3 linked regions of the Homo sapiens genome follow. The protein of the gene in region 3 interacts with the protein of the main gene of each other region in a pairwise test. Each region holds a gene or a part of one and is shown on either strand. Other genes may lie near its edges.

Region 1 (3,750 bases), on a different chromosome or scaffold from region 3:
CTGTATGACACTGTGCCCACAATTAACAATACTGTTAGTATGCACTTAAAAATATGTTAAGAGGTCATGTCTTATAGTATATATTTCTTACCACAATTTTTTAAAAAAACACGGTGTTGAGCAAAGCATGCAAAATACAAAAGAATACTTAGGCCATAATTACGCTTACACGAAATTAAACAACACGTATCACTAAGCAAGCCATAGCAAGAGAGCAAAACTTTAAAGGAAAACATGAGGATGATTAACAGAAAGTTCAAGATAGTGGTTACCTCTGAAGTAGGGATGGTAATGTCCTATTCTAAATTGATAGGTTCATAGGTGTTTATTATTCTTTTTCAAAAGGTATAGAATGTTGATTACATTCTTTCATATGTAGGATTTATTTTACAATACTTTTTTTAAAGAAGTATCATCAACAGTCAATTACAAATGACATTTTGGGGAGAACCGGAGAAACAAATATGAACTGGCTATGAGATGACATGCAGAAACTATTAATTATCTTAGATATGATAATGGCTTTGTGATTATATTGAAGAATATCCTTATTCTTAGAATTTGCATGCTGATGTATTTAGGAAATAGGAACATAATGTATTCAATTTCATTTCAAATATTTCAACAAATGTAGCTATAGGTATTCTAAAATATCCCAAACTATTAATAATTGTTAAATCCAGTTGTAGGTATACAAGTATCATTGTTCTGTTATTTCAATTTTTCTGTATGTTTAAAAAGTTCATAATAAAAAGGTGGAGGAGGAAATAGCCAATACATTCCAACATTCTAGTATTTGTTTATGAACTTCCCAGATTCCATCCCTGGTATCCAAATGATCTGAGTCCAGTGATATGACTGGTGAGATTGTAACCAAAGATTCACCACCTAATAAGGAGTAGGCTCACTTCCAGGAATGGAGGTATCCTCCCTGCCTCCACTTAACCCCAACTCAGTCCCTTCCACACTTCAGGATGTGGAACACCCCAAACCCAAATCTTTGCATTACTCAGGGGTCCTGTTAGTAAATGACAGAAATCCAATTCAGACCAGCTTAGGCAGAAAGGTGAATGTATTGGGTGGTAACATAACCCTGGGTATGAGTGGGGCTGATCTCAGGAAAAAGTTTAGTGAAGGACTAGATATCCTCTAAATTACTCCCTGTCCATCTCTCATCTCTTTTTATCAGCATCTTAGATTTATCTTCTCAGAATTTCTCTCTCACCAGGGCCAGGACCAAATTTCTGGAGTTTCTGGGCTTATATCTGCAACTTTTCCAACAGGAAGGATTTTCCTCCCTTTAGTACTCATTCAAAGAAAGGACCCCAAAAGCCTGGTCACACACACACACACACACACACACACACACACACGCACACACGTCCATGTCTTCTTCCAAATCCAGGAATTTGGGGGATGCAGGGGCAGAGGAGGGAAAACAAATCCTATGAAGATGATACAGTATAATTATTATGCTCATTGTATGAATGAGGAAACGGAGGCTTAGAAAGGTGAAGCTGCTTTCAAAGTCACACAGCTGGTGACAGGTCCAAAATCTGCTTTCCTCCAGGCCACATGAGATTGGCGGGGGGCAGGAGCACACGGTGCTGGAGCGCAAGGCTGAGAGTGAATGTTCAGGACAGACATTTTAAGCACTGCCATTCAGATTCTTCCTTGGGGTGAGGTGAGAACTGAGAACAAGTCCGGGGCAGCACAGGAAGGAGGGAAGATTTTGGTCCCAGGTGAATCAGGCATGAAGAGGGACTGATAGAGAACACGGTGGAGTTGAGGAAGTCTGGCCCTGCCACTGCCTCGTGTGTGAACTTGAGTAATTTCATGCCCTTTCTGTGCTTCTTTTCCTCCTTCCATAAGATAGTTTGGCCCTGGTGGCGCCTAATGGTCAATCACGTGTCCATTTCTTCTCCTCGTGTGAAGAACGAGGGTCGCTCTTGGATTTCTTCATCTATTCCAGTGCAGAGCCTTAGGGAAAGCCCCAAGTCCCTCCTCAGAAGGGGCCATTTCCAAATAGAGCTGGGAAGTGCAGCCTCCCTTGCCATTTTGAGCCTTCAGCTCCACCCACTGGCATGCCCAGCAGGAACACTATAAAGCCAGGCTCAGCCCAGCTCCCAGCCAAGCACCTGCCTGGCAACATGGGGTCCAGCAGCTTCTTGGTCCTCATGGTGTCTCTCGTTCTTGTGACCCTGGTGGCTGTGGAAGGAGTTAAAGAGGGTGAGCAGACATGGTGGAGCTGGGTGGGGCTGGGCTGGGGAGAGGTCCTGAGGGGCCCTCTGGGGCTGGAGTTCTCATATCACCTTGTGGCTTCCTCCACTAGGTATAGAGAAAGCAGGGGTTTGCCCAGCTGACAACGTACGCTGCTTCAAGTCCGATCCTCCCCAGTGTCACACAGACCAGGACTGTCTGGGGGAAAGGAAGTGTTGTTACCTGCACTGTGGCTTCAAGTGTGTGATTCCTGTGAAGGAACTGGAAGAAGGTAAGGAGACCTGCCTCCCAGGGCTGGGGCTGTCCCTTCCCTGCCTCTATCTGACCCATGAAAGTTCGGAGGAATTAGTCCCTTTAGCTGGTGTGGGGAGGGATGGCTAAAGCTGGCAGGGCCCTCAGAGACCACCTAGTCTGAACATCTCCATTGTCCAAAGGAGGAAACAAGGATGAAGATGTGTCAAGGCCATACCCTGAGCCAGGATGGGAGGCCAAGTGTCCAGGCTCCTCCTCTACCAGGTGTCCTCAGAAATGATGCTGGGTCCTTTCTACCTCTGGGGGTCACTCTCACTTGGCACCTGCCCCTGAGGGTCCTGAGACTTGGAATATGGAAGAAGCAATACCCAACCCCACCAAAGAAAACCTGAGCTTGAAGTCCTTTTCCCCAAAAAGAGGGAAGAGTCACAAAAAGTCCAGACCCCAGGGACGGTACTTTCCCTCTCTACCTGGTGCTCCTCCCTAATGCTCATGAATGGACCCCTCATGAATGAAACCAGTGCCCTTATAAGAGACCCCAAAGAGCTGCCTTGCCCTTCTGCAATGTGTGATCACAGCTAGAAGGCACTGTCAGAGAAGAGAAACTGGTCCTCACCAGATGCTGAATCTGCTGGTGCCTTGATCTTGGACTTCCCAGCCTCTAGAACTGTAAGAAATAAATATTTGCTGTTTATAATCCACCCAGTCTATGGTAATTTGTTATAGCAGCCCAAACCTGCTAAGACAACCTAATAGTAAAAAAAAAAAATCCTATTCAACATTATCAAAGTGAATAAAATATAAAATACCTACAAATAAATCTAGAGATGTACAGAAATTTTCTGAAAGGAAACCCTAAAACTTTATTAAATGACATTTTAAAAGATCTGGATAAATAGACTAAACTTTTCTACAGAATAAATAAATAAATGTTTTTTAAAAGATATGCTCTTCCCCAAGCAGGAAGCCTCCTCAAAGTGTTCACCTTGGTCAGCATAATTTATACCTGAAATATAATTAAAATTAAAACCCACTGGGTTTTGCAAACCCTAATGAAATAATTGATTCTGGCAATGATTATCCATGGCTTCTGAATATTTACAGGGTGCCATTTCATCACCCTGTGGTATATTTACAGTTTGTAAGAGGGAAAACACAAGTTTACAACTTGAGGATTCAGGTACACACCGAAAACACATTAATCTGTCTCCACAATGCTAAAAATGGGTAAAGCGGACCTCCGTTCCTCCTGAGGTGATGCAACACAAAACACACAGC
Region 2 (3,750 bases), on a different chromosome or scaffold from region 3:
GAGGGGCAAGTCTTTGTTCCCAACTAGTTCCGGGCAGGCTGAGAGCCAGAATGACCACCAGGAGCAGCCAGCCCCACAGGCGAGCAATGAGGGCCTGCTTTAGCTACAGTGGGGCTCCTGAGTGGGAGGGGTACGTACATGCGCTGTATTAAGCTCAGAGCCCTCTGAAACCCCCTTCTCACCGGTCACCTTCCCCACTCTAGCAGCGGCTAACAGAGGAGCTGCAGACAGTGGAGAATGGTTACCATGACAACCCAACACTGGAAGTGATGGAGACCTCTTCTGAGATGCAGGAGAAGAAGGTGGTCAGCCTCAACGGGGAGCTGGGGGACAGCTGGATCGTCCCTCTGGACAACCTGACCAAGGACGACCTGGATGAGGAGGAAGACACACACCTCTAGTCCGGTCTGCCGGTGGCCTCCAGCAGCACCACAGAGCTCCAGACCAACCACCCCAAGTGCCGTTTGGATGGGGAAGGGAAAGACTGGGGAGGGAGAGTGAACTCCGAGGGGTGTCCCCTCCCAATCCCCCCAGGGCCTTAATTTTTCCCTTTTCAACCTGAACAAATCACATTCTGTCCAGATTCCTCTTGTAAAATAACCCACTAGTGCCTGAGCTCAGTGCTGCTGGATGATGAGGGAGATCAAGAAAAAGCCACGTAAGGGACTTTATAGATGAACTAGTGGAATCCCTTCATTCTGCAGTGAGATTGCCGAGACCTGAAGAGGGTAAGTGACTTGCCCAAGGTCAGAGCCACTTGGTGACAGAGCCAGGATGAGAACAAAGATTCCATTTGCACCATGCCACACTGCTGTGTTCACATGTGCCTTCCGTCCAGAGCAGTCCCGGGCAGGGGTGAAACTCCAGCAGGTGGCTGGGCTGGAAAGGAGGGCAGGGCTACATCCTGGCTCGGTGGGATCTGACGACCTGAAAGTCCAGCTCCCAAGTTTTCCTTCTCCTACCCCAGCCTCGTGTACCCATCTTCCCACCCTCTATGTTCTTACCCCTCCCTACACTCAGTGTTTGTTCCCACTTACTCTGTCCTGGGGCCTCTGGGATTAGCACAGGTTATTCATAACCTTGAACCCCTTGTTCTGGATTCGGATTTTCTCACATTTGCTTCGTGAGATGGGGGCTTAACCCACACAGGTCTCCGTGCGTGAACCAGGTCTGCTTAGGGGACCTGCGTGCAGGTGAGGAGAGAAGGGGACACTCGAGTCCAGGCTGGTATCTCAGGGCAGCTGATGAGGGGTCAGCAGGAACACTGGCCCATTGCCCCTGGCACTCCTTGCAGAGGCCACCCACGATCTTCTTTGGGCTTCCATTTCCACCAGGGACTAAAATCTGCTGTAGCTAGTGAGAGCAGCGTGTTCCTTTTGTTGTTCACTGCTCAGCTGATGGGAGTGATTCCCTGAGACCCAGTATGAAAGAGCAGTGGCTGCAGGAGAGGCCTTCCCGGGGCCCCCCATCAGCGATGTGTCTTCAGAGACAATCCATTAAAGCAGCCAGGAAGGACAGGCTTTCCCCTGTATATCATAGGAAACTCAGGGACATTTCAAGTTGCTGAGAGTTTTGTTATAGTTGTTTTCTAACCCAGCCCTCCACTGCCAAAGGCCAAAAGCTCAGACAGTTGGCAGACGTCCAGTTAGCTCATCTCACTCACTCTGATTCTCCTGTGCCACAGGAAAAGAGGGCCTGGAAAGCGCAGTGCATGCTGGGTGCATGAAGGGCAGCCTGGGGGACAGACTGTTGTGGGAACGTCCCACTGTCCTGGCCTGGAGCTAGGCCTTGCTGTTCCTCTTCTCTGTGAGCCTAGTGGGGCTGCTGCGGTTCTCTTGCAGTTTCTGGTGGCATCTCAGGGGAACACAAAGCTATGTCTATTCCCCAATATAGGACTTTTATGGGCTCGGCAGTTAGCTGCCATGTAGAAGGCTCCTAAGCAGTGGGCATGGTGAGGTTTCATCTGATTGAGAAGGGGGAATCCTGTGTGGAATGTTGAACTTTCGCCATGGTCTCCATCGTTCTGGGCGTAAATTCCCTGGGATCAAGTAGGAAAATGGGCAGAACTGCTTAGGGGAATGAAATTGCCATTTTTCGGGTGAAACGCCACACCTCCAGGGTCTTAAGAGTCAGGCTCCGGCTGTAGTAGCTCTGATGAAATAGGCTATCCACTCGGGATGGCTTACTTTTTAAAAGGGTAGGGGGAGGGGCTGGGGAAGATCTGTCCTGCACCATCTGCCTAATTCCTTCCTCACAGTCTGTAGCCATCTGATATCCTAGGGGAAAAGGAAGGCCAGGGGTTCACATAGGGCCCCAGCGAGTTTCCCAGGAGTTAGAGGGATGCGAGGCTAACAAGTTCCAAAAACATCTGCCCCGATGCTCTAGTGTTTGGAGGTGGGCAGGATGGAGAACAGTGCCTGTTTGGGGGAAAACAGGAAATCTTGTTAGGCTTGAGTGAGGTGTTTGCTTCCTTCTTGCCCAGCGCTGGGTTCTCTCCACCCAGTAGGTTTTCTGTTGTGGTCCCGTGGGAGAGGCCAGACTGGATTATTCCTCCTTTGCTGATCCTGGGTCACACTTCACCAGCCAGGGCTTTTGACGGAGACAGCAAATAGGCCTCTGCAAATCAATCAAAGGCTGCAACCCTATGGCCTCTTGGAGACAGATGATGACTGGCAAGGACTAGAGAGCAGGAGTGCCTGGCCAGGTCGGTCCTGACTCTCCTGACTCTCCATCGCTCTGTCCAAGGAGAACCCGGAGAGGCTCTGGGCTGATTCAGAGGTTACTGCTTTATATTCGTCCAAACTGTGTTAGTCTAGGCTTAGGACAGCTTCAGAATCTGACACCTTGCCTTGCTCTTGCCACCAGGACACCTATGTCAACAGGCCAAACAGCCATGCATCTATAAAGGTCATCATCTTCTGCCACCTTTACTGGGTTCTAAATGCTCTCTGATAATTCAGAGAGCATTGGGTCTGGGAAGAGGTAAGAGGAACACTAGAAGCTCAGCATGACTTAAACAGGTTGTAGCAAAGACAGTTTATCATCAGCTCTTTCAGTGGTAAACTGTGGTTTCCCCAAGCTGCACAGGAGGCCAGAAACCACAAGTATGATGACTAGGAAGCCTACTGTCATGAGAGTGGGGAGACAGGCAGCAAAGCTTATGAAGGAGGTACAGAATATTCTTTGCGTTGTAAGACAGAATACGGGTTTAATCTAGTCTAGGCACCAGATTTTTTTCCCGCTTGATAAGGAAAGCTAGCAGAAAGTTTATTTAAACCACTTCTTGAGCTTTATCTTTTTTGACAATATACTGGAGAAACTTTGAAGAACAAGTTCAAACTGATACATATACACATATTTTTTTGATAATGTAAATACAGTGACCATGTTAACCTACCCTGCACTGCTTTAAGTGAACATACTTTGAAAAAGCATTATGTTAGCTGAGTGATGGCCAAGTTTTTTCTCTGGACAGGAATGTAAATGTCTTACTGGAAATGACAAGTTTTTGCTTGATTTTTTTTTTTAAACAAAAAATGAAATATAACAAGACAAACTTATGATAAAGTATTTGTCTTGTAGATCAGGTGTTTTGTTTTGTTTTTTTAATTTTAAAATGCAACCCTGCCCCCTCCCCAGCAAAGTCACAGCTCCATTTCAGTAAAGGTTGGAGTCAATATGCTCTGGTTGGCAGGCAACCCTGTAGTCATGGAGAAAGGTATTTCAAGATCTAGTCCAATCTTTTTCTAG
Region 3 (3,750 bases):
ATTAGATTCTCATAGGAGCAAGAACCCTATTGTGAACTGCGCATGTGAAGGACCTAGGTTGAGTGCTCCTCAAGAGAATCTAACGCTCCTCTCCCCATCCTGCCCCTACCCCCTACACCCGGTATGGTCCATGGAAAAACTGTCTTCCATGAAACCAGTCCCTGTTACAAAAAGGTTGGGGACCGCTGTCCTATAGGGCTATTTTTTTTTTTTGAGATGAAGTTTCACTCTGTCACCCAGGCTGGAGTGCAATGGCATGACCTCAGCTCACTGCAACCTCTGCCTCCCGGAGTCAAGTGATTCTCCTGCCTCAGCCACCCAAGTAGCTGGGATTACAGGCATGCACCACCATGCCCAGCTAATTTTTGTATTTTTAGTAGAGACGGGGTTTCGCCAGGTTGGCCAGGCTGGTCTGGAACTCCTGACCTCAAGTGCTCCGCCCATCTTAGCCTCCCAAAGTGCTGGGATTACAGGTGTGAGCCAGCACACCAAGGCCTATAGTGCTTCTTTATCCTGTAGTACTTCCAGTCCTCTTCCCTCAGCTTGCTGATTAAGAGTTGTGGCCCTCCAGGTTGAGGGTTAAATGGAGGGAAAGGTGAAAGGAGCAGCAAAGTTCTTATTTGATGACTGGTATTATCTTACTAGTTTTGCATTGGTGCTTTTTGAGTTTGCAAGGTATTCAAAAACTACTGTGGTTCTCTTATGGGGTACTTTCTCATGTTCTTCAGACACTTCTCCTTTCCCTAGGCCCTGGAGATTTCTTACCTATTCTTTGAAAAGGGTAATTTACCCTCTGGATGGATGCTATGACTTTCCCTTCAGTCTTAGGTTCTTGGCAGTCCTCCAGAGATTCTCTGTGTTGGGATCCTGTCACACTTCCAGGAAAGCCTCTTGAACATATTCAGACACACTCTCTCACAATTGTGTGTGCTCACCTTGGTCCACAGGAAACACCTCTGCTCCACTCTCATCAGTACAGTAACTGCCCAAACCACACAGCTAATTCTGCCACTGGCTATCCAGTTGAACTATCAGGTAGAAAGTCTCTGTACCAGAAAAGCCCTTTCTCAGTGAGGGCTTGAGATGAGAGCAAGCCTCCCTAATTCCTTCATATAGGGAGCCCTAAAACTCTAATAGCTCTCTCCAAAAATCATGTTTTAATTTCCATCAACCTGGCCTTTTTTATGAGTCACAAAACATGTTTTTTATCCCCATCTTTTGCAACTCCTACATGGTGGTCTCACACCTTATTTTGGTACATAGCAGCTTGGAGCCTAAGCCAAATCTGAAACTAAAAGAATTCCATTTTTCACATCTTGTTACAATGCCATAACCTGAGTCCTAGAATGGGTAACCATTCTTAAAAAAAAAAATGAAGTCACAAGATCTACAAAACATGTATTTGCTAGCATGGTAAGAAGGCTGAAATTTGATAAGGGAAAAATAAAAACTACCAGTTGCTAAAAAGACTTATCTCACTGGGAATGAGTCATCTGTGCATTTCAGTTCAACAGAAGATTTAATGGATGCAAGACACATTTTTTGAAGGAAACAAAAGATGAATAAAAACTGATTCCTGCCTTCCAAGGGCATATCATGGATAGAATAATTCTCATCCAAAGTATACAGTCACCCCAGGAGCTTGATATGCCCTGGTAACATCCTAAACCCACTAAATCAAAGTTACCACATATTGGACCAGAGCGTGTATGTTCTCAAAAAGGCCCATACATTATTTTGTTGTTTTGTAAGAATAGAAGACAAACACATGAGATATCTATATCTATATCTATCTATCTATATCAAATAAACTCTAAAGATAGAAAACAAGGCAGACAATGCTGAGGGGCAAGCTAGGGAACCACAATGGCCAAATACTCAAACTGCAGATGTTAGATATCTTCCTAGGACCACTTTTATGTAAGAGAGTAGTTTTTAACCTTTCATATATTGGCAGATTCCTGTGCCAATCTCATGAAAAATATGATGCTCTCCCTGGAAAAATGCACACATACACATGTACACAGATTTTTATATATAATTTTGGAAAAATCCATGAGCTTCCTAAAGTCCATCCATGGCTTTCCCACAGGAGGTACATGGACACGTTAAGAACCCTGCCATTCAGCCAGAGAGAAAGGCCAGGCCACCTACAAAGGGAAGCCCATCAGACTAACAGCAGATCTCTCAGCAGAAACCCTATAAGCCAGAAGAGATTGGGGGCCCATATTCAACATCCTTAAAAGAATTTCCAACCCAGAATTTCATATCTGGTCAAACTAAGCTTCATAAGCAAAGGAGAAATAAGATCCTTTTCAGACAAGCAAATGCCGAGGGAATTCATTACTACCAGACCTGCCTTACAAGAGTTCCTGAAGGAAGCACTAAATATGGAAAGGAAAAATTGTTACCAGCCACTACAAAAACACACTGAAGTATACAGACCAGTGACACTGTGAAGCAACCACATAAGTTTGCAAAATAACCAGCTAGCATCATGATGACAGGATCAAATTTACACATAACAATACTAACCTTAAATGTAAATGGGCTAAATGCCCCAATTAAAAGACACAGAATGGCAAACCAGATAAAAAAACAAGACCCATCAGTGAGCTGTATTCAAGAGACCCACTATACATACAAAGACACACATAGGCTCAAAATACAGGGATGAAGGAAAATTTACCAAGCAAATGGAAAACAGAAAAAAGCAGTGGTCGCAATCCTAGTTTCTGACAAAACAGACTCTAAACCAAAGAAGATCAAAAAAGACAAAGAAGGAAGCAGAGGTTGCAGTGAGCTGAAATTGCGCCACTGTACTCCAGCCTGGGTGACAGAGCAAGACTCTGTCTCAAGAGAAAAAAAAAAGACAAAGAAGGGCATTACATAATGGTAAAGGGTTCAATTCAACAAGAAGAGCTAACTACCTTAAATATATATGCACCCAATACAGGAACACCCAGATTCATAAAGCAAGTACTTCGAGAGCTTCAAAGAGACTAGACTCCCACACAATAATAGTGGGAGACTTTAACACTCTGCTGACAATAGTAGACAGATCATCAAGACAGAAAACTAACAAAGATATTCAAACCTGACCTCAGCTCTGGATCAAGTGGACCTGATATCTACAGAACTCTCCACCCAAAAACAACAGAATATACGTTCTTCTCATCACCACATGGCACTCAATTCACTCAAAACCACACAACTACATGGAAATTGAACAACCTGCTCCTGAATGACTTTTGGGTAAATAATAAAATTAAGGCAGAACTTCTTGAATGAGAAGAATGAACTTCTTTGAATGAGAACAAAGATACAACATACCAGAATCTCAGACACAGCTAAAATTTCATTCTTGTTAAGAAAGAAATTTATAGCACTAAATGCCCAAATCAAAAAGCTAGAAAGATCTCCAGTTGACAACCTAATATCACAAATAAAAGAACTAGAGAAACAAGAGCAAACAAACCCCGAAGCTAGCAGAAGACAAGAAATAACCAAGATCAGAGCTGAACTGAAGGAGATAGAGACACAGAAAACCCTTCAAAAAAAAAAAAAATGAATACAGGAGCTAGTTTTTTGATAAAATTAATAAAATAGACCGCTAGCTATACTAATGAAGAAAAAAGAGAGAAGATTCAAACAAACACAATCAAAAATGATATTACCACTGACCCCACAGAAATACAAACAACCATCAAAGAATAGTATAAACAGTCCTATGCGCATAAACTAGAAATT

What was found.
Region 1: the proteins of SGTB (region 3) and WFDC12 interact in binary tests that used the Homo sapiens proteins (3 or more experiments, as listed by UniProt).
Region 2: the proteins of SGTB (region 3) and PODXL interact in binary tests that used the Homo sapiens proteins (3 or more experiments, as listed by UniProt).

What each region holds. Positions count from the first base shown.
Region 1 is NC_000020.11:45,122,848-45,126,597, reverse strand, and holds WFDC12 (WAP four-disulfide core domain protein 12 precursor), read left to right. Parts: upstream 1-2,132; 5' UTR 2,133-2,150; coding exon 2,151-2,229; intron 2,230-2,332; coding exon 2,333-2,491; intron 2,492-2,654; coding exon 2,655-2,752; 3' UTR 2,753-3,173; downstream 3,174-3,750. UniProt on the Homo sapiens protein: Antibacterial protein. Putative acid-stable proteinase inhibitor.
Region 2 is NC_000007.14:131,500,962-131,504,711, reverse strand, and holds part of PODXL (podocalyxin isoform 1 precursor), read left to right. Parts: intron 1-203; coding exon 204-401; 3' UTR 402-3,750. UniProt on the Homo sapiens protein: Involved in the regulation of both adhesion and cell morphology and cancer progression. Functions as an anti-adhesive molecule that maintains an open filtration pathway between neighboring foot processes in the podocyte by charge repulsion.
Region 3 is NC_000005.10:65,673,461-65,677,210, forward strand, and holds part of SGTB (small glutamine-rich tetratricopeptide repeat-containing protein beta), read right to left. Parts: intron 1-3,750. UniProt on the Homo sapiens protein: Co-chaperone that binds directly to HSC70 and HSP70 and regulates their ATPase activity.